3 linked regions of the Homo sapiens genome follow. The protein of the gene in region 1 interacts with the protein of each later gene in a biochemical or structural test. Each region holds a gene or a part of one and is shown on either strand. Other genes may lie near its edges.

Region 1 (7,184 bases):
GCAATAACAAAGACGGTAACATCCATAAAGATCTAGTTCTACCGTGTGGGACTGTGCAATAGATGGGCAGCTGGCCCCACTGTATGTGGACTGCAGTCCTTGTAACCCCGAGATTTGCTGCTAAGTCAGGGCCTAGTGGCACGGAGTGGGGAACTCCTAGTGAGGATACTGGGAGCAATTCCCAAACCCTGCCCTCTCCACCCCTCCCCATCTCTGCCAGCTAAATGTGGGACTCCCCCTGCAGCTTCAGAAACACCATCCCTTCACACACATTTTGTCTCCCCAACCCTAGGGTCAACTCCATGGGAGACCTAAACAACCAGGACACTTGCCGAGGCTAGGCTGGGCATGAGATGCTCAGTGTTAGAGGAAGCGCAGTGGGACCTCCCCGTGGACTCCAAGCTCCCAGGAGGGAAAATGTGTAACAAAGGGAAATGTGAACCAACTGCTGCCCCAAACCCAAAAAAACAAAGGAAAACAAGAAAACAAAACCAGCTACATAAATTGCAAAAAGAATGGAATTCCAGTTCTATTCTACAATGGCATCAATACTGCAATACTTTCATCAAGTTATATAAAGAAAAACCAAGAACATTGGAATAAGAGGAACAGGAGCTTCCCCCATCTTGTCATGTTCAAGTAGTTTGTGTCTGCTCCCCTAGCCACCAACAGTTTTAGCTATGCTATCCCAAGGGCAAGTGCAAGCCTGTCATCCAAGCGTGTAATTCTTGACCCAGGCTGGCCATCTCGGTTGTGGCTTGCAAGTCCCGCTGGCATGTGATTTCCCAAAGGAGCCAGTCTTAGTCCGTAACCCCTTACCCTGTTCATTGTGGAAGTCCGGGGGCCCAAGGGCAGAAAGGGCTGCAGGGATAGCCTCATCAGAGGGCACTCAGGCAATGGAAGAGATGTGGCTGTGTTTCTGCTCTCTGCAGAAGAGAGTCCTGGAGGAGGGCCAGCAGCTGCCCCGGGTGCTGGGGAGACAGCAGAAGAGGGTGGACATCAGCAGGGCCAGGGCGATGATGAAGGTGAGCACCCATCGTAAGACACCCGGGTAGATGAAGGGCCCGATGAGGATAATGAGCAAGGCCAGCAGGAGTAGGTGCGCGGCCAGGCGCCGGGCTGCCACGTGGTTTGCACTTACTTCATCCTGTCCATCCTCTCCCACCAAGCTGGGGTGTCCTGCTGCCAAGTCAGCAGGATCCACCAGCCCCTGAGGACAGAGCGATACCTCTGTGCATGGCTGGGCCAGCTGCCCCACCACCGCCTCATGGTCGCGCAGGCTGCAGATGAGGCCCCCGGGGACGGCGGTGACCTTGCGGCACAGCGGGCAGGTGATGGACCAGGTGTTGTCCTGCACGCACAGCAGGAGCTTCAGGCAGATGGCGCAGAAGGCATGCTGGCAGGCCAGCAGCTTGGGCAACCGGGGACAGCTGTAGGGCTCCCGGCACACCAGACACTCCAGGTCACATTCTGTGGAGCCAGAATGACCCCCAGCAGGGGCCACAGCGGTGGTGGTTGTGGTGGCTCCTGCGGAGATGGGCTGGGACTGTTGCAGGGTCTTGGTGCAGGCCATTCTGGGCACAGGGACCGGTGGGACACTGTCGCTCAGCACCTGGGCATTGGCAGAGAGTGTCAGCTGGCGCCGCTGGGACTTGGATGGAATCTGCCCCTCCTTTTCACTCTGGCCAGGTGCCTGTTGACAACAGCTGTCTGACACTCCTCTCTCCCAGAGCTGCCCAGCTTGTTTCTTGGCTTACGTCGTCCCTTCAGTTATTATTATTTATTTTCTCAAAACCTAGGGTTAATCAGTAACTTGCGGGTCTGGAGACTTTGAATTGCCTGATAGGAGGGCAAAGTGGGCAAGGGTCTAGTGAATCAGGACTTTCCTGTTGGGGCCAGGTACCTGGTGGGTGCCCACAGAACTGTGGCTCAAGCTTTAGGAGGCAGCAGAATCCAACTCTCTCACCCCCACTTCCCAGGTCCCTGAACCTTTTATTAATTTTTTTTATTTAACTTTTTTTTTTTTTTTTGAGACGGAGTCTCGTTCTCTCAGGTTGGAGTGCAGTGGCCCGATCTTGGCTCACTGGCATCTACAAATCTGCACAATAAACAGACAGCCCTATGAGTCGGACATAGGTGGATTGGTGGACACTGCTTTCTCAGACACAAACTTTTGGATGTCAGGATGAGTGGAAAAAAGTTTGTTTGCACTTGGAGCACATTTACAGGCAGGTGGCCTTGGAAAGAGGAGGGGAGAGGTAAGAAAAGTGAGTGGAAGGAGGACAAAGCCCAACCCAACGCAGAAAAACAAAACCACATACAGCGCACAGGTGTTTGGCACCTGCTACTGTATTCATTTCCTTAGAGCCACAGCTGTTGTATTCACAGTTACGGGTGTATGAACTTCCCATCGGTGCCCTGCTGCACACTTCACATGCCTAATCACAGGTGTCCTGTTTTGTGCTAGGCATGCTGCGTATCCAGTAGTACTAAGAACAGCTGCCATTTATTTGGGCCTACTCTAAGCCAAGCCCTGTGCCCGGGGTCCCCAGCCCCCATTTCCCGGAACCCTGATACAGCCTTGTAGGGAAGGCTGGGAAACAAGGGCAGGGTGTGGTCAGGGTAGGCTGCTGGCTGCCTGCCAAGGGGCCTTCCATGGAGCAGGACCTTGTGGAATCTACCAGCGTCCAAGGTCTGGTTGAATCAATTTCATTGGTTCATTTGGACACAACTGGCCCCAGCCGGGTGGCGTAGGCTAAGAGGACTCATGTGAGACAGGCAGATATTAGTAACACAGCAGTTAGGAAAACGTGATTTCCTTACTTTGCCCTCAAGGGCAAATGGCGGGGTGGCATGTGCACTCCCTCAAACAAATGTTTCATTCAGGCCACTCTGAACTCAGAAGCCCGTGTGAAGGATCCTTTGGTGCTCATGTCACCTGCCAAGGGCCACACAGAGTCCTGTGCCTCTGATTCAGCTCTTTCCCTTACCCCAGTAGCTGGCACTGCAGGCCACCCTCTGTGTCCTGGAGTCACCAGCCCCAAAGGGGCTCCCTCCCTTGTGGGATCGGTAACTCCCACCTCCCCACTCCCCCTGGGCCCTCTATCTCTGAAATCCAATACTCTCACCATCCCATCCCATTTCTTCTCAACCTGTAGCTAGACCATCAGTTACCTCTGTGAAAGGAAAATAAATCGTGGGGCCCCAAAATCACTAAGCCACAAGGGAAAGTCAAGCTGGAAACTGCTTAGGGCCAGCCTGCCTCCCATTCTATTCAAAGTCACCTCTCTGCTCACTGAGACAAATGCATATCTGATTGCCTCCTTTGGAGATGCTAATCAGAAACTCAAAAGAATGTAACCATTCTTATCCACCTGTGACCTGGAAGCCCCTTCCCCACTTCAGGTCTTCCTGCCTTTGCTTCAAGTTGCTCCACCTTTTCAGATGGAACCAATGTTCATTTTACATATGTTGATTGATGTCTCATGTCCCTCTAAAACGTATAAAACCAAGCTGTGCTCTGTCCACCTTGGGCACATGTCATCAGGACCTCCTGAGGCTGTGTCACGGACATGTGTCCTCAACCTTGGCAAAATAAACTTTCTAAATTAACTGAGACCTGTCTCAGATACTAAGGTATAGATACACATCTATATCACGTTTTCCCCCAGATCAAGCTGAAGGTGGCCTTGGATCTAGGCATGTTTTTTCCCCCATGCCTAGCATTCTTTCCCCTTTTTTGGGTAACAGTTCTCTGTTTTCACTTTGGGCAACCACTGCTTCCCACCGTCATTCTGTGCTCACGGAGAGGGTGATGTCTGGCTCCAGCTCTCTGGAAGTGGGGCCCTGATACAATTCAGGACAGGCCAGTTAGCATGCTCTGCTCTGCTAGCTGCAGCCATTGGTTTGAGCGTAGGCATATAATCGAAGCCAAGCCAATGAGATTCAATTCTGAGACTTCTGTTGGAGCCCTTGAGAAGTTTCTCTTTGTGCTGGGTTTCTAAGTTAGAGGATGGAACCCTGGGGCTGCCAGGACCACAGTGTGCAGAGAACCTGCTCAAGAGTAAGGTCAGCACAAAAGAAAAATGAGAAAAGAATCAGACAAAGGCCTGATGATGTTATTTGAACACCTGAAGCAGGACACCTAGCATTGGATTTTTTCAAGGATATTAACCTATAAAATCTACCCTGATTTTTATTCTTAAGTCAGTTCAAATTGAACTTCTGTCCCTTGCAAGTGAAAGACCTCTATGTAACACAGCAATGGATGAAGAAAAGAAGCCTTTACTTGCTCTCTGACAAAGGGTCAGGCATTGATGAGACAACCAGACTTTGTACACGGACAAGAGTGACCGAATGCCTGTGTGTTACCATGCTAGAAGAGATTCTGTGTTTTCTCTGCTTGGACTTGCATTGCATAATGTTATTTTCTGTTTGTGAGACCCTAGGATGGATTAGGGATGAGAGGAGAAAAATGTGTTGAGCCACATTCATTTATAATAAGAATAGAAAATCAGGTGGGCCACACAGTGATGTTGGCTTGGCCAGTGTCCCTCTCACTTTTTTTTGAGATAGAGTCTCGCTCTGTCTTGCCCAGGCTGGAGTGCGACCTCTGCCTCCCGGGCTCAAGCGATTCTCTTGTCTCAGCCTCCTGAGTAGCTGGGACTACAGGCGTGTGCCACCACACCCGGCTAATATTGTATTTTTAGTGGAGATGGGCTTTCACTATGTTGGCCAGATCGGTCTCAAACTCCTGACCTCAGGTGATTCACCTGCCTCAGCCTCCCAAAATGCTAGGATTACAGGCATGAGCCGCTTCACCCAGCCGGCCAGTGCCTCTCTCTCTAGCCAGCTTAATGGGAAATCAAATTGTCAGAAGGTAGCTGAGTGAGGTTGAAATCAGACCAAGGGAAGTTATTTGGGGTTAGAGCCTAAAAAATAACCTTTTAACATCATTGGGCAACCACCGTTAAGAAAACATATTGGCTGGAACAACCCAAGTATTACAGAAATAAAGTAGAATGTGAAAGTTCATCTTACTGCAACCCCTGAGAAATGACCACTGTTAACAGAGCATTCCTTCCTGTTGTCCTCCTCCTACCATCTTGGCTTAGGAACAACTTTGTTTCTCAAAAGTGCCTTGCCTTAACTATCACCAGCACTGACTATAGCTGGAAATCTGGCTCCTGTCACTTTACCAGCTATGTGACCTTGGGCAAGAATTTTAACTTCACTGCAGTTCAGTTTTAAAATTTGATAAAATGGAGGCCGGGCACAGTGACTCAAGCCTGTAATCCCAGCACTTTGGGAAGCAGAGGTGGGTGGATCGCTTGAGCTCAGGAGTTCGAGACCGGCCTGGGCAATGAGGTGCAACCCTATCTCTACTAAAAATACAAAAAATAGCTGGGCCTGGTGGTGCATACCTGTAGCCCCAGCTACTTGGGAGGCCGAGGCAGGAGGATAGCTTGAGCCTGGGAGGTCGCAGTTGCGTGAGCCAAGATCGTGCCACTGCACTCCAGCCTGGGTGACAGAGTGACACTCTGTATTTAAAAAAAAGTAAATAAAATAAAATAAAACAAAATGGAGACGTTAACACTTGAGGAAATTATGGATTATTTAAGCCCTCCACCCCTGACTACAACCTGCTCACAGGAGGCTTAGTAATTTATGTACTTTGGGTTGTAACTGACCTAGGTGAAATTGATCTCTTCCAGGGACATGAGATAAGACACTTTGGTGACTGATTCGGCCAATGCTTCTTGAAGAGGAGTGAATATGGGCAGAGTCTGAGGTGGAGCCTGAAGCAGATCTACCCCAGGGGAATTCAAAAGTGTCTCCGGAGACTTAAAATGTTAAATTCATCTAGGTTTCACATTCTTCTCCATGTTCTATTTGTGCTTACTGCAACATTAGAATCCCGAAGCATGCACGAATCCTTCCAAATCTCCAAATAAAACATATTTGTTTGTTTTAATTGCTGTACAAATATGAACTCATTAATCTTGAGTAAAGCTTTTTTTTCTTTTTTCATTTGAAATGCAGTTTCTTCCATCTTATGGCTTCTCACAGCCCTGGGGTCATACGCACTCCATCGTGAGAAACACAGTCTCATGTTGGGGTGAAATTTCAAGCCTAGCTGCAGGCTGGGGAGCCGGAGCCAGTCCAGTTGAGGAAGATCATGTTGGAAATCACATGTGCAAGGAACCACACACCCATGTACCTTTGCAAAAACATGTCTGATCTGAATTTTAGGCCTCCCGTCAAGTCAGAAAGGAGTCAGGTGGCAGCACTGTTCTGAGATCAAACTGTCCACTCATCTTTGGCCTCTGTCCTGATCAGCTGACCCTCACCCCACACTCCAGTGAACACAGGGAGCCAGGTCCCAGCCAAACGCCGAGTTGCTCTCCACTCCTCCTTGCCTTGGGCTGAATGGAAACCATCTCAGCTCACACTCTTGTCCCAGAATTCTCGCCTCTGTGCTCCTTAGAGCATGGCAGGCTCCATCCCTATTTTCAGCCCCCCACCCCCACCCCCACCCCTCACCAAGAATCTGCGTGTCTGAGGATAGATTGCCAAGGAGACAGAAGAAAGGGATCTGGAACCAAAATAACAATAATGAGAAAATTATGACTGTATAGAGAGAAAGACAATGTAACAGAGATAGTGAATGCCTCGGGCACAAACTGCAGGAAGTTGGAAAACTACACTGTCTTTTTTTTTTTTTTTTTTGAGATGGAGGGCACTCACTGGGCTAGAGCTCTGAACTCACCACCGACAGGCAGTCAGTGGCCAAGTCGCTTAACCTCTCTAGGCCTCAGTTCTCTCCGTCTGTGAAATGGACACCTGCCCTGTCTCCTTACTGAGGAGCCAATGAAATGACAGAGGCTTGTGAATGGGGCAGGGGGGCCATTACTACTACTGACCTCACTCCCTGGACTCAAATCTTCCGTCTTTTTTTTTTTTTTTTTTTGAGATGCAGTTTTGCTCTTGTTGCCCAGGCTGGAGTGCAATGGTGCAATCTTGGCTCACTGCAACCTCCGCCTCACGGGTTCAAGAGATTCTCCTGCCTCAGCCGCTTGAGTACCTGGGACTACAGGCATGTGCCACCATGCCCAGCTAATTTTTTTTTGTATTTTTAGTGGAGACGGTGTTTCACCATGTTGTCCAGGTTGGTCTCGAACTCG
Region 2 (7,464 bases), on another chromosome or scaffold:
GCTGGGCTCCAGGCATTCCTGGTACTTCGTGGCAGAAGTGACTTCATTTCTCATCCAGTTAACAAGCATTTTTGGAGGTCTTGGTGTTTTAATCCTTTGGTCAGGTGGCACCTCCTCTCAGGTGCTAGCCTTAATGACTGTGTTTCTTTTTTTCTTTTTTTTTTTTTTCCTTGAGACAGAGTTTTGCTCTTATTGCCCAGGCTGGAGTGCAATGGTGCGATCTTGGCTCACCACAACCTCCGCCTCCCGGGTTCAAGCGATTCTCCTGCCTCAGCCTCCCGAGTAGCTGGGATTACAGGCATGCACCACCACACCTGGCTAATTTTGTATTTTTCAGTAGAGACGGGGTTTCTCCATGTTGGTCAGGCTGGTCTCAAACTCCCGACCTCAGGTGATCCGCCCACCTCAGCCTCCCAAAGTTCTGGGATTACAGGTGTGAACCACCGTGCCTGGCCCAATGACTGTGTTTCTTTTCTTTTCTTCTTTTTTTTGAGACAGAGTCTCACTCTGTCGCCTAGGCTAGAATACAGTGGTATGATCCCGGCTCACTGCAACTTCTGTCTCCCAGGTTCAAGCGATTCTTCTCCCTCAGCCTCCTGATTTAGCTGGGATTACAGGCATGCACCACCATGCCCAGTTAATTTTTTTTTGTATTTTTTAGTAGAAACAAGGTTTTACCATGTTGGCCAGGCTGGTCTTGAACTCTTGATCTCAAGTGATCCACCTGCCTCGGCCTCCCAAAGTGCTGGGATTACAGGCGAGAGCCACTTCGCCCAGCCTCTTTCTGTTTCACAACACCTGGCATTTACATTTTTCACAGCCTTGTTCATACCTTGTGGTGGTTACCTGTTTCCCTACCCCTCTGCTAAGTAGTTTGTGAGCTTATCAAGAGTGGAGACTAAGTCTGATTCATTTCACTGTCCTCACTGCCCAGCCCAGTATCTTACTTAGTAGCTACCTGGTAAGTCTTTCTTGAATGGATAAGTAGGAGCCCCTCTCCTGTTTGATCTCCTTTTCTCCTCTCTTTTTCCCCTCTCTCCAAAGCCAGGAAGTCGCTGTGTTCCCTTCTTTTTAAGAACCTATTCTTGTGTCAGGTTTGGGACTATAGTTGTGGTTGCACCATCCCTGCTGGAGACCCCTGGCTGGGGCAGGCCCATGACTCTGGGAGATGGCTGACCATGTGTGGCCAGGATGGACTTGGGCATAACTGGCTGGAGTGTGTTAATCCACAGGCTTGGGGGCAAGGAGGGACACCTGGACCACTGGAATGTTGTGCACAAACAGGAGTCCTTGTGCTGCGCATGGAAGCTCATTAAGGGCTTCCAGGTGTCTTTGTCATCTCTAGAAATCCAGCCACATTTTCCTGGGGTGTGGGCCCTGATGATGGGACTGGCTGGGTATTCCCTTGTCACCTCTTCCTCCCCTCCTGTCCCGCTACTCACCTGGGACTTTCTGAGGGTCTCTCAGTTGTGCATAATCTCTGTGCTGATCTCCTCCCCTTCTGTGATTGGCGACAACTTCCCCTAGTATATGGTACGTTATTTACAAAGCTTCTTTAGGTCCTGAAACTCCTCACAGCTCTGTCCGGTAGATCAACATATCCCCCATTCTATAGGAAACTGAGAGTGATAACAGACAGCAAGTGTGTGGCAAAGCTGGGGTTGGAACCCAGAGCTCTTGCGTTCCAAACCTTGTGCTTACAACTTTGCCAGAGATGCTTCTCCTCTGGCTTTCTTAGGGGATGGGTTCCACCCCTTGCTTGAGCTGGGGAAAAATGGCCTTACGGATAGGTGGGCCCCTATGTCTGGTCTCTAATACCCCAGATCCTATAAATCCCTGGGCAGGCCTGTGTCCACAAGGAGCAGGCTTGGGATCCTGTAGTTTGCAGCCTTGTTGCTAGGTCAGGCTGGCTGCTTCTGGTAGCCAGCAGAGGGCGTGAGGGGCCCAGGAAAGGTCTGCTGCTTCTGGTTGGTTTTGTTTTGAAATGAAAATTATGTTTTAAGAGGTTATATGGTCATTATTTTTTTAATTAAAAAATAGGCATTTGTACAGGTTCATTTAAGTTGAACCTTCGTGGTGCCAGGTGTGCTTTGGAATTTAGGAAAAAAACAATTTATAAAACTTACCTGGTGTGTATACTTTGTGTTACATAACACCTCCAGCAGGGTCTGAGGCAGCACCTCATAATCAAACACCTGAATGTTTTCTGCATTGAAATATTTGAATATTTACCCCAAGTGGGATAAATAGATTCTTGTCAGTTCTGGTCAGGTTATGATGCCAAATGAATTAGATAAAGACTTTTGGGCCGGGCACAGTGGCTCATGTCTGTAATCCCAGCACTTTGGGAGGCCGAGGTGGGTGGATCACGAGATCAGGAGATCGAGACCATCCTGGCTAACATGGTGAAACCCCGTCTCTACTAAAAATACAAAAAATTAGCCAGGCATGGTGGCAGGCGCCTGTAGTCCCAGCTAGTCGGGAGGCTGAGGCAGGAGAATGGCATGAACCCGGGAGGCAGAGCTTGCAGTGAGCCGAGATAGTGCCACTGCACTCCGGCCTGGGCAAAAGAGTGAGACTGCATCTCAAAAAAAAAAAAAAAAAAAAAAGACTTGATTTTCAAAGCTTTTTGGGTTTAGTGTAACTTTATAAAAGGGAAAGTGCAATAAAATCGCTGATAACACCAGGACTTAGGGATATTTTGCTGTCTAGCCTTCCCAATTTTGTGTACGTGTGTTTGTATACATACATATGTATATATGTGTAGATATCTGTTAAATGTGTTCAGTCACAGATGAGAACATTGTTTGCACACTTTTGCCTTCTAGAGTATATCTCTTTTTTTTTTTTTTGAGACAGAGTTTCGCTCTTGTTGCCCAGGCTGGAACGCAATGGGGTGATCTTAGCTCACCGCAACCTCTTACCTCCTGGGTTCGAACGATTCTCCTGCCTAAGCCTCCCATGTAGCTGGGATTACAGGCATGCACCACCACGCCTGACTACTTTTGTATTTTTATTAGAGACGGGGTTTCTCCATGTTGGTCAGGCTGGTCTCGAACTCCCGACCTCAGGTGATCCACCCACCTTGGCCTCCCAAAGTGCTGGGATTACAGGTGTGAGCCACCATGCCCGGCCTACAGCATATCTTGGAATCCTCTAGCCCTTTGTCAGGTTCAGGATCTAGGCTCTTGCTAGTTACCCCCTCTTCACCACCTTTCCTAGATGAAACTCCTTGAGGTAGAGCCACATTCTCCACCCAGGCACTTGCTGGGTCTGAGTCTCTGGCTGCCTGAGGCAGTGTGGCTCCCTGGGCCAGGCCCTGCAAGGTCAACAGAAGCCATAAGGCATATGGGGCCACTGTTCTCAGGGCACCTAGGACCCTTTTGGAAGTAAGTCTTAGTTTCACTCAGCAACTAATTCCCTAAAAGAGTCTCCTACTTCACATGCATGGAGTGGTCAAACAGGGCTGAGAACTTTACCTTGGCCAGCGTCCTCTCTGTCAATGATCTAGGCCTCTCGGGAGCTTGAGGTCGGGGCCCTGGGGAGGGAGTACAGGTTTTCCCTGTTGCTGACCCCCACCTCTTCCCTCCAGCAGGAGCATTGGTTTGAAAAGGCCCTACGAGACAAGAAGGGCTTCATCATCAAGCAGATGAAGGAGGATGGCGCCTGTCTCTTCCGGGCTGTAGGTGAGTCTCTGCCTTAGTCCTTAAGGGCCTAGGGCTGCCCCTAAGCTGTGTCCCAGTTATCAGGAATAGCCCCTGAGACAGGGTTGAGGCAGAGCTAGCTAATCTTTTAGGGACTCTAGGCTCCAGCCTCAAGTTGGTATCTGACCTCTAGCCGTGGGTCTTGAGACATTGTAGTGGTGCAAGATTAATATGCATAATAACAGCAAGAAGAATGATAAAGAAAATAATATCCTTTGGGACACATTGTCAGGTGCTACAGGAAACCTCTTTGATTCCCCTCTAAGCTAGGTGAGTGTAGGGACTACTGTTGCTTCCATTTGTCAGATGAGAAAAGTGGCTCAGAGATGGTGGGTGACTTGTCTGGAGTGAAATAATAAGTGGTAGAGTTGGGATTCAGTGTCTGGGTTAGATTAGTCTGAGGCCCATGCTCTTAACCATAGCATACTGCTGCCACCCTGGGCTGTATGACCCCTAGGTTTATACCCAGATCCCATCTCTGGTGTGTTGCGGGTCTCTGTTCCTCAATCTGTGTGTATGGGGGCTATCAGACTAGATCTTTACAAATTTCTTATATCATAGAATTTTTTTTCAACTTATATAAAAGTAGAGAGAATGATGAACCCTCATGTACCCATCATCCAGCTTCAAAATAGTCAATACGTGGCCAGCCTTGTTTCATCACTATCCCGCCCACTCTTTCTCACTCCCCTGAAAGAAGAGTATTTTTAAAGCAAAACCCCGACATTGGATCATTTCATTCATAAATATTTCTGTATGTTTCTCTGACAGATACAGACTTACTCTCTTCTTTTTAACATAATCAAAATGCCATTACTGCACCTAACAGAATTAATAATGCCTTAATACCATCTGTTATCCAGTCTGAGTTAGATCTTTGAGGCCATTTTGGCTCTGAATCTGTGACCCAACAAGTAGTTGTGAGGTCCTGTGCTAGGGTGAAGGGGAAGCTGGGAATGTGACCTGATCCTCCCTGTGGTTCTCTGATATCTACCAAGGAAAAGTGCCCTCTGATAGGAGCTTTGAGCTGGGAGTCAGAAGACCTACCTTCTAGTTCTGGCCCTGACTCATAACTGCTGTGACACTTGGCCTTGGTCTTCCCGTCTGTGAAATGGTGTTGATTCTCAATGCCTCTTTGAGTTCCTTCTTGGTCTGCTATTCTCTCCGTCTGTGGGTACCCCCCATGTCTACTGGTGGGCTGGGGTGTTTTAGGCTCCATCCCTGGCTGCACAACTGATTCTTGGTATGACCTTAGGCAAGCAGCTCTTCTTTCCTGAGGCTGTTTCCTCATCTGTAAAATGGGGCTAAAAGACCCTAATGCTGTAACGATTTAATGAAGTTGCTTTGGTAAATCCCTTTAGTGCCTGACACATATAGTAGACCCTCATGGAACAGTAGCATTTGTAAAACCCAGATGCCATTTTCACTGGTGCCTCAGAGTCACATGTGTTTGTTGAAAGGGTGGAGTGAATGGTCTCCTCTCTATTCTGCCAAGCAGAAGAGGCTCAGGCAATGGGCTCTATTGGACTGGGAAAAAACTTATCCCTCCTACCCCTCTGGCTCAAGTTTGTGTTTTCCCTGGGATGTTTCCCAGAGGAAGAGCTGGGTTTCGGGGCATCTTGGACAAAAGAAAGGCAAAGAAAGAATAGGTGGGGGCCTGTTAGGTGCTAGGCCCTGTGTTGAGACCTCAGGCTAGATGTGGGGTAAGCAGGGCTTCTGGTGGAGTTAGGATTAGAGAATGCAGCGGGCATCTGAGTCTTGGGCAGTCATTGAGGGTAAGCCTTGGGACTGGCTAGTGAGGACCTGGCTTGTGTAGTAACTCATATCAAGAGCCGTGTGTGTGTGTGTGTGTGTGTGTGTGTGTGTGTGTGTATCTAGCTAGCTGTTCTCTGTGTGTGTGTGTGTGTGTGTGTGTGTGTGTGTGTGTATGTGTGTGTGTATCTAGCTAGCTGTTCTCCCCAAATACCCCCGACCCTTGGGGCTAGCTAGTGAGGACCTGGCTTGTTGTAGTAACTCGTATCAAGAGCAGTATTTGTGTGTGTGTGTGTGTCTATATGTATCTAGCTGTTCTCCCCAAATACTCCCGACCCTTCCTCCCACTGGGGCCTTCAGTAAGGGGCCTCTACTTACAGGAAGAGCTGACCAGGGCAGGTTGAAGGCCTTTCCTTATCGGCACTATGGCTACACATTTCCCCTGACTGGGCTGCCTTTGGCTTTTCTCTGTAAAACCTCAGAAGTCCTCTGGCCTCTCCCCCGAAGTACATGGCCCTTGGTCTCTAGACCTTATCTGGAGGTTTCCTTGGTGCAGAGTGCATAATACATGTGCCTGGGAAGGGGACTTTGTCCCTGGGCTTTTTGCTGCCCCCGTTTCCAGCCTCGCCTGGATGGGGACAGATGGCAGTCAGCTTAGACTGTAGTGTGAAGCCCTACAGGCTGACTTCCTGCCATGTGTTGAATAGTGGAAGGAACGTGGAGCAGAGAGTTGGAGTTGGGCGGGGGCTGCAAACATAGAGGGCACTGTTTCCTTGACCCCTGCTGTGTGCTAGGCATTCAGCTGGGTGCTTCAGGCTCACTGCAAAACTTGGATCATTATCCCATGAGACAGGTGAAAAGATTGAAGCATAGAAAGGGAAATGACATGCTCAGGGCCATTAGCCAGAGCTGGCCTGGGAACCCAGAGGTGTCCAAAGGACACGCATTCTTTTTTTTTTTTTTTTTTTTTTTTTTTTTTTTTTTTTTGAGATGGAGTCTCCCTCTGTCGCCCAGGCTGGAATGTGCAGTGGCGTGATCTCGGCTCACTGCAACCTCTGCCTCCCGGGTTCAAGTGATTCTTCTGCCTCAGCCTCCTGAGTAGCTAGGATTACAGGCGTGCACCACCACACCTGGTTAATTTTTGTGTTTTTAGCAGAGATGGGGTTTCACCATGTTGGTCAGGCTGGTCTCAAACTCCTGACTTTGTGATCCACCCGCTTTGGCCTCCCAAAGTGTTGGGATTATAGGCATGAGCCACCGCATCCGGCCAGGACACATTCTTTTTATGATCCTAGGATCCTTAGCTTCTTAGCTTGGTTGTCAACTGGCTGGATGACCTTGGCTGTGTTCCTTGACTTCTCTGGACCTTACCTCCTCCAAGTAGGAGCACGTGGCCCTCTGTTGTTGGGAGTCTTGAGGCAGGTGGCTTTCTGCCTTCTGTTCCCCTGGATTATCTTCCTATAGGGTCCTACCATTTGCTTTAGAGACTTCTGAGAATTGCCTACTCCCCAGGTAGCTGCCTGCCTGCCATTGGTTCCCCTGAGTTAAGCAATATCCATTGCTTGCGCTCAGTTCTCTCCCACCTCCTCTTATTGGGGATTCATGAGCATCATTGAAGGCTTGGGTGGAGTGGAGGTGGGAACCTGAGCCTCAGAGGTATCCTGTGGCCCACCCTGTCCCTGTTATGCTCAGATAACCTCCTCCTGGAAACATGACTCTGCATCTCTCCCTTGCTCCCTCCCTCCATGTGGCTTTGACTCAGCAGAAACCTCTAACCCTGACCAGGGTCCTGGTGCTAGCTTCTGTGGGCAGAGTGAAGGCCACATGGTTGTTTCTACATGGGCCATGGGGGAGTGGCAAGGGCTGTGCATGTTACCACGATGAGGCCCAGAAACATTAGCTAGGCCCACTCTTCTGGGCCTTTTGGTCTTGGAACATCAGCACTAGGAGGGATGGATCTGAGATCAATTTTGATTGTTTTATAAATGGGGAAACTGAGGCCTCAAGA
Region 3 (7,464 bases), on another chromosome or scaffold:
GTTTACAGTTTTCATTATACACAACTATTAAGAGGTTATAGTCAGAGGAGGCATGTGTCCTGTTGACAGACGTGCCTACTAGATCATCACAATGCAAGGAGAAAGGTGGAAGGGAGGAGACAGGGCGAGGAAAAATAAGCGATAAAAAGCTTCAGATTTCAGTTAGGGGCTGGCAGTCCCTTTTATCTTTTCAAGTATCACACAATATGTACCAAATACAATCTGTAAATAATGGCCATTTCTTCCCAAGCCCACAGCCAAGATGAGTGTTAGGCTAAATTCAGAGCCCTGGCTCTTCCTCAGATGAGTGGAAAACCTGCGCATGACAGGGCCGGCTCCCCCTTCTCAAAGGGCTTCCTCCCACTCATCCCATCCCTAACAGAATCGCCGAGGTGTTCACGGGCCAGAGAAAGCACAAACATGGATTCAGAAGTCCAAAGAAATGCAGTTCGTTGCGCCCAATCAGAGATAGATGATTTCATTCAACAAGGCTGGAAGCCCAGTTGGGAAGTCGATAAAAAATCTTGCTAACTTTTTTAAATGGCTTTTACTTTTCTAAGTCACTGAAACAAGGAAGGGCCACATGCCATTTAAAATCAAACACTAGTTCCCAGAGACTTGGTGTCCAGAAACTTGACCCACAGAGGCTAGCGGAGGATCTGTCTTTCATGATTCTCAGCCATCCCAACGGGAGGCCTAACATAAAGCATGTGCCAGGCCAATGCCAACTAGGACTTCAGGGGGCCTTTGGAGGGAAAAATTCCTTTGAGAGGAGACATTCCTCAGGAGCTTAGATCAGCCAGCTGGCAGTCAGAACAGCTTTTGAAGTGGATGAGAAATGTTAGGTACTGGAGAGATGATATGGCAACTCCTGATAATGACCTCACTAGGATAAAATGCTGGTTGAAACTGCACAGTAACCTCAAGGAGGGTGATGAAATTGACGACAAAGCCAAATGTCAGTGTCTAAGATGGCTACCACTGACCCTGTGCCCAAAAGCCCCCCGGTGCTGGGGCTTCCAGAGGGAGCCCAAGGGTGGTGGATTCAATGTTGCCAGGTTGCAACCATCTTGCTTGTTGGTGTTTGGCAAGAGCTTGAGCTCAGTTATGTGAACAGGGGCAAAGAATGGCTTGTGCTGGTAAAACTCAAGGGAGGATCCAAAAACTATGGGCACTAAAAAGGGGAGGGAAACCGCCAGAAGTGGCTCTGACCTGCTGCCGCTGCCACCACCTCTAAAGCCAAGAATGTAGAGCCTCTGCCCAGGGATCTGGATGCTCTCCTGAGTGTTGGAAGGGCAGCCTGGAAAGGCATTTGGTGGTGAAACACCGCTGCTCCAGACTTACGCTACCATCTATTGTTGGGGGCCCAGAGTCCTTGGATTCACTGCCAGGCCTTCTTCCAGATCTTTCTGTACCTGTGTGTTTGGGCTCCTACTCCCACCTCTCCCAGGCGCAGGGAGAGGACAAAAAGCATAAGGGACTCTGTTCAACCCAGCAAAAGTCAGTTTCCCAGTGGAGAGGCAAAGCCCCACCCAGAACATAAACATGCATGGGACCAAGGTTAGTGCCCAGACAGGACAGACTTGCACAGAACAAGAGGGCACAGTGGGATCCATGCGGCAATTACAGGAGCTTCCAGCACTAACAGAGGAGCCTTATCCCACCTTCATCACACACACTTAGATGGACACACACACACTCTCGCTCACACTCTCACACATGTGCACACATACACACACTCTCTCTCTCTGCAGCCACACTCAAATCTGCTAAACTCCTACAACCTCCCCCAGCAGGTCATTTGACAATTCTGCATCTTCCGCTCTCTGGTGCTGGGGCTCTGGTCAGAGGCGAGCCAATGTCTTATCATTAGAGAGATGTGGGATTAGGTAAGGGGCAGAGTCATGGCACTGCTCACACACCTTCCCGAAACTGGGGTCTATTCAGTTTTTTGACAAGATCAAAAGCAATTCTTAACTGGTCATTATTTTTTTTTAAGGTAATTAGAACACTATTGTTTATACAATATTGAAAAAATACAATTTTTTATTGTTTGAACTCAAATCACCACCCAGCACTTTAAGCCTACCCTAAATAGCACCTACAATAAATGTCATAGCACAAGCAAACTGCAAAGTCAGCAGGTAAGCAAGTTAGACAGTGCCAGCAGAGAGACCCTCCCTCCCCCAAAGCAATGAGAAGACAGCGTGCTAGGTAAGAGTGAAGTACACCATTACATGTTAAATAGTTAATACTACCCTTCCAGCAAGCCACAGATGCTAGATGGATAACTCAGTACGGTTAACTAACCACAGCCCTACATCACTGCACTTTTTTTTTTTTTTAAAGAAAACCTTTTGCTTCATGCCCGTAATTAACATAAAGTAAGTAAATTCTTTGTCTTTTTATTTAGGAAAATAATCATGCTAAAAGCAAGTTGTACTTTATATAGATTTTCAAACAAAAGATTGATTGTGCTTTTTGAATAAAAAAGATAGGGTATCTTCCAACCTCACTGACTTAAACCTTGTGGAATACAGCACTTCTAAACTAAAAACACACGTCAAAAAGAAAAATTAAATAATCCCAGTGGGATGCTCAAAAATCGTCTTTAGAAGGTTTTAGGATTGGCTAATTCTGCTATTATCTTATTGGCTGCGGCAAAAAAAGAACACAGAGCTGCTGTCTAAAATTTCTCCAAACTCCCCTCCGAGTTCAGCAGGCAACACTCAGATTTGAAAGAAACTCTGCAGCAACCTGGACATATGGTTAGCTGAGTCGACATTTGATTAGCAGGCATTTTAAACTGATTTCCTCTTAACATACGCAGGAGAGAAAACATTTTCTTCCTGCAGGGCATGTTCTACTACATCATATTTCTGAATCCCTTCTTCCTATTCGGTCACTCTCTGAAAAAAGCTGGTTTGTTTTTCCCATGTAGAATCACTCTGGGTACAAGAACCTTTATTTGTTCCAATTATTATTTGTTTTAAATTTAGAACCTGTGTTGGGTCTAAAATACCCATTTCCCACTCCCACAAGCAGATGATGACCAGGCTGCTGCCAAGAGCAGCAGAAAAAGGGAAAACCAAACCAGAACATGAAGGCAAGTACCCAGGGCTTTGCAGTCACCACGTGGGTCGTCTTCTCAAGTCTAATGGTCCATGAGCGGCTTGTCCAAGGAGGCGGCCGCCTCTTGGTAGGTGAAGATGAAATCTGCAACCTTTCTAAGCACAATACACACACACACACACCAAAAAAATAACCCCCCCAGAAACACAACCCTCATATTTAAAGCTCTTAAGTTCAGGGTAGCGGTCTCAAACTGCCAAACACTAGGATGAGGATGTGACTCTGCATGTGTTTTGGATGAGAGGAAGCATCGTCCCAGTCACTTTTCTCCTCCTGTGCTGTCCTTTCAAAAACAGGTCTGGATTTCACGCTCTACCCCAAGAAAAAGAACTGGTTCAGAAAACACTTCCCCAAGTTTCTCCAACAGAACACTGTGGCTGCAGGGCCTGGTAGTGTGAAGGGCAGCAACTGACATATAAAAATGTACTTAAAATCAGAGTCAAAAAATGGTTTTAAGTTTTAATACTCTTAATTAGCTCCCTGCTTTATACTGTAACTCCACAGAAGACATAGGGCCACCTAGGATTCACAGGAAGGAGCAGCTCTGATTCTTACATGGCTGGCTCCGATGCCCCCACAGCAGGCCTCTTCCTCCCCAAGTTTTTCCTCTCCATTTCAAAAAAGCACTATTTTATCTTCACATCCAAGAGCTGGTTGGTTTGGTTTGTTTCTTTGGAAACCAATAAAAGAAGCAATTTTTTCCTGTTCTTTTTACTCACATCTACCTATCAGAGCGGCTATTTCCTTCGACAGTTCAGTAGCACACAGGCTGACTTGGCCACATGGACTCATGAATGCATGCATTCAGACCGCATATTGCTACCAAATGGAATGTGGGAATATGCTATGCACCTCAGGTTGAGAAATGACCAAGAAATCAAGATCTAAAGGGTGATATATAATATATATATATCAATGCTATTATTCATAAAAACCTTGTTTAGTAATAAAAAAAATTGCTTTGTTTAAATATGAATATTATAGTCTGCTTCTCATGGTTAGGAAATAATAGTCTTTCTGAAAAGCAGGTGCTTTTTCTACTACAACTCCATATCCTGGGCCTCATCTTCGGAAAAGTCAGACATAGAGCTCTCCGATGAGCTGTCCCCGGTACCCTCTTCCTGTTCTTTCAGCGCCTCCTCCGTGGCGTATTTCTGGATGTACTCTGCACGGGGTGGGAGAAAGACAACAAGGGCAGTGAGTGGGCAGGCATGTGCTTTGGCGACCCCAAAAAGCTGGCAAGGCTGCGGAGGTTCAAACTTACCTTGAACACCAGGGGGGACAAAGATGACAGTAATCATGATCACTACAGCTAAGGAGAATCCCATAGGGAGACTTCTTTGGGACAGGGTTTCTGCATTTTGCCCCCTGAGGAAAGGGGTATTGGGAAGAGCAACACAGCAGGCTCAGCTTGCAGGGGAATGTGTGTGCTGCAGCACCCCAAGAACTCTTCAGGGACCAGGGAAATGGGAGCCCCACGCTTTCTTTTTACTTTCATCTCCCAGATAGTATAGGACCAGTCATGATTCCATAGTAATTTATAAGGAAATCCTTCATCATTTTTAGATCTGCAGTTACATAATTACGGTCAGTCCAGGTCTATTATTTTAGGAATCGATTTTAGTCTAAACAGATCCTGCCTGTCAGGTTTTTGAAGCAGCTGGCAAAAACCATCGCTCAATCTGCTCAGGACTAAGCTGCTATACGGAGACACCACTCGGCTCTGAGTGGTTTTTCCATGTATAATTTACCTGAAGGTAGATTTCCGCTGCTACAGCCTTGGTGGAACCCTAGGCTGAATAAGACTGCTGAAACGGCTTTTAAGAACTGCTGAATAAACAAACTTGTTCCTAAAAACTCTAAGTGCATACTGTTTTCAAGTGAACAGCCTCCACACAATAGGAAAAGACATGACAGAAACCTATTCAAAATGCAAGCCACACAAAAACACACCCTTGTGGCTTTGTTTTTCCTCCTATAGAGTTGCGGGGACTCACTGCAATAGGAAGATAAGCTGAATGGCCAAATGGGCCTACCAGATTTGAATAACTAGCACAGGGCCTAGCTAAGAATGTTTTTATATTTTAAAAACTGTCTTAAAAAATAATAAACAGAATGTGTGATAAAGGCCACATCTGGCCAATGTGGTCCTTTACAGAAAAGGTTTGCAGACTTGAGACTTAGAGCCCTTCAAATTCATTATAACAAAATTTTATGCTAATGATTTTGATGAGATTAAAGTAGCCCATGATTAGGTAGGAATTTACCTTAATTGAGAAATATTTATTCAAACTTTAACAATTTTATTTTTAACCTCTAATGGGTTGACTATTTTGCGTCTTCCTTTGTAGAAGATAAATATTGACCTTTTTTTGACACTAGAATTTGATACTATCAGCCCTCTTTAATGTATTCAAGGAAACAAATGTATATTAAGTACTTACTAGGACAAGGCCTTTGAGAGAGAGAAAGGAAGAGCAAGGTCACCAATGAGGAGGAGGAAACAGAGGAAGATAAAAGGAGCTGCTGAGTGTCACCAGAGGGAAGCAGTTACGGACGAAAAACGGCCGAGGCAGTCCCAGCCACACTGACCCCCAAGTCCTGCCAGCTATGGCATAGGAGAGGCCACTCCAGGGAAAGGCTTTGTTTTGTTGAAAGTAAGTGGCTGGGATGTTTAAACACAACCTTAAGAGAGAACTATGGCCAGGTGCAGCGGCTCATGCCTGTAAACCCAGCACTTTGGGAGGCCAAGGCGGGTATATCACCTGAGGTTAGGACTTCGAGACCAGCCTGGCCAACATGGTGAAACCCCATCTCTACAAAAATACAAAAAACTAGCTGGATGTGGTGGCACATGCCTGTAATCCCAGCTACTCGGGAGGCTGAGGAAGGAGAATCACTTGAACCCGGGAGGCAGAGGCTGCAGTGGGCCGAGATCGCACCACTGCACTCCAGCCTAGGCGACAGGGCAAGACTCCGTCTCAAAAAAAAAAAAAAAAAAAAAAAAAAAAAAAAGGAGTAAGGGCAAAGATGTAGATTCCACTCAGTATCAGAGAGCCCTGAATGGCAGGCAAAGATGTCACCCAGCAAAGGGTTTTGAGCAGGGAAGTGACAGCTTTAGACAGCTCCAATGGTGCCCAGTGCTACGGGCTATCCAATATTTAAACACTTTTTCAAACATGTACTATAATACAGCGCCAACTAAATATGAACACTGACTGTGTTAGCTGTGTTGGGTTGGTGGTGACTGCCACACAAATGGAAATGTCCAGCAGCAGCTTGGGAGAGAGGCCAGGCCTAGACACACATTCAGAAATCATCTCCCTGGAGGGGACTGACTGAAGCTGTGAGAGGTGAAACAGCTCCTCAGGGATGACAAAGGAAGAGAGGGAGCCCAGGGACCGAGTCCTAAGTGAATGACCACATTTAGGAAATGGAATGAGAAGTTTCCAGAAAGATGAGGGTAAAATGTAACACTTGCAGAAAGGTCCAGCAAAATGGGACTTGAGAAGAGTCCAAAGGATTGGGAAGAAATGAGGGCACAGATTAAGCAGAGGAGGGGAAAAAAACTAGAGGAGTTTAAGGTGAGGACGCAAGAAGTTTGAAAATGAAAAGGAATAAACAGCATGACTCCTAAGAGAGCCCACAGGAGCAGATCACTGCTCCTGAAACAGGGAGACCTCTGATGGGGTGGAGGAGGAAGACTGCATTGGGAGGGGGCGGGGGGTTGGGGGAACAAGATCACAGATTGGTGGTGGGAGTGAGTTTGAGAAATGAGGAAGGGTGTCTCTTATTTATTTCCTATAGTTAGGAACAAAGAAAAGATGCAGGAGGGAAGGGAGAAGATATCAAGGCACAGTAGGAAGTGGGGGTGAGCTCAGGTCTGATGGCCATGATTTTCTGAGATTACTAAGGAAGACAAAATGATAGCCAACATGAACATTTCCGAAGGCTAGGGGTCCGTACGCTGGAGTGAGCCATTCTAAGATAAATGTAGGCTCGGTTCTTTTTGTAAATGGGACTATAGCAGACATGTACTGAAACAGGGCTACTGCTAAATTGTTGAGACAGAATGCATATGTGAACTAGAGAAATATACTCTGCTCCAAGATATCTGTGGTTTGCAGACATTGCTAAGTGATTCCTATGTCAAAATTTTAATATAGTCTCATAACAGCACTTTATCTGGCTGAAACTGACTGCCTTTTTCTTCAAATACATGTTTGCTTAGCTATATATTTTGCTACATAAATTAGATATTAATTTGCAAAGCACTTGAGATCTAATTAATTATAGTAAATTTATTTCTGCTTTATCTCAACAACAGCTCCA

What was found. Proteins that work in one complex are often made in the same cells at the same time.
Region 2: the proteins of RNF186 (region 1) and OTUD5 form a complex in vitro, tested with the Homo sapiens proteins (one study listed by BioGRID).
Region 3: the proteins of RNF186 (region 1) and UBE2H form a complex in vitro, tested with the Homo sapiens proteins (one study listed by BioGRID).

Annotation. Positions count from the first base shown.
Region 1 is NC_000001.11:19,813,529-19,820,712, forward strand, and holds RNF186 (E3 ubiquitin-protein ligase RNF186), read right to left. Parts: upstream 1,756-7,184; 5' UTR 1,574-1,755; coding exon 890-1,573; 3' UTR 501-889; downstream 1-500. UniProt on the Homo sapiens protein: E3 ubiquitin protein ligase that is part of an apoptotic signaling pathway activated by endoplasmic reticulum stress.
Region 2 is NC_000023.11:48,940,412-48,947,875, reverse strand, and holds part of OTUD5 (OTU domain-containing protein 5), read left to right. Parts: intron 1-3,592; coding exon 3,593-3,686; intron 3,687-7,464. UniProt on the Homo sapiens protein: Deubiquitinating enzyme that functions as a negative regulator of the innate immune system. Has peptidase activity towards 'Lys-48'- and 'Lys-63'-linked polyubiquitin chains. Can also cleave 'Lys-11'-linked ubiquitin chains (in vitro).
Region 3 is NC_000007.14:129,830,765-129,838,228, forward strand, and holds part of UBE2H (ubiquitin-conjugating enzyme E2 H), read right to left. Parts: intron 4,298-7,464; coding exon 4,173-4,297; 3' UTR 1-4,172. UniProt on the Homo sapiens protein: Accepts ubiquitin from the E1 complex and catalyzes its covalent attachment to other proteins. E2 ubiquitin conjugating enzyme that transfers ubiquitin to MAEA, a core component of the CTLH E3 ubiquitin-protein ligase complex.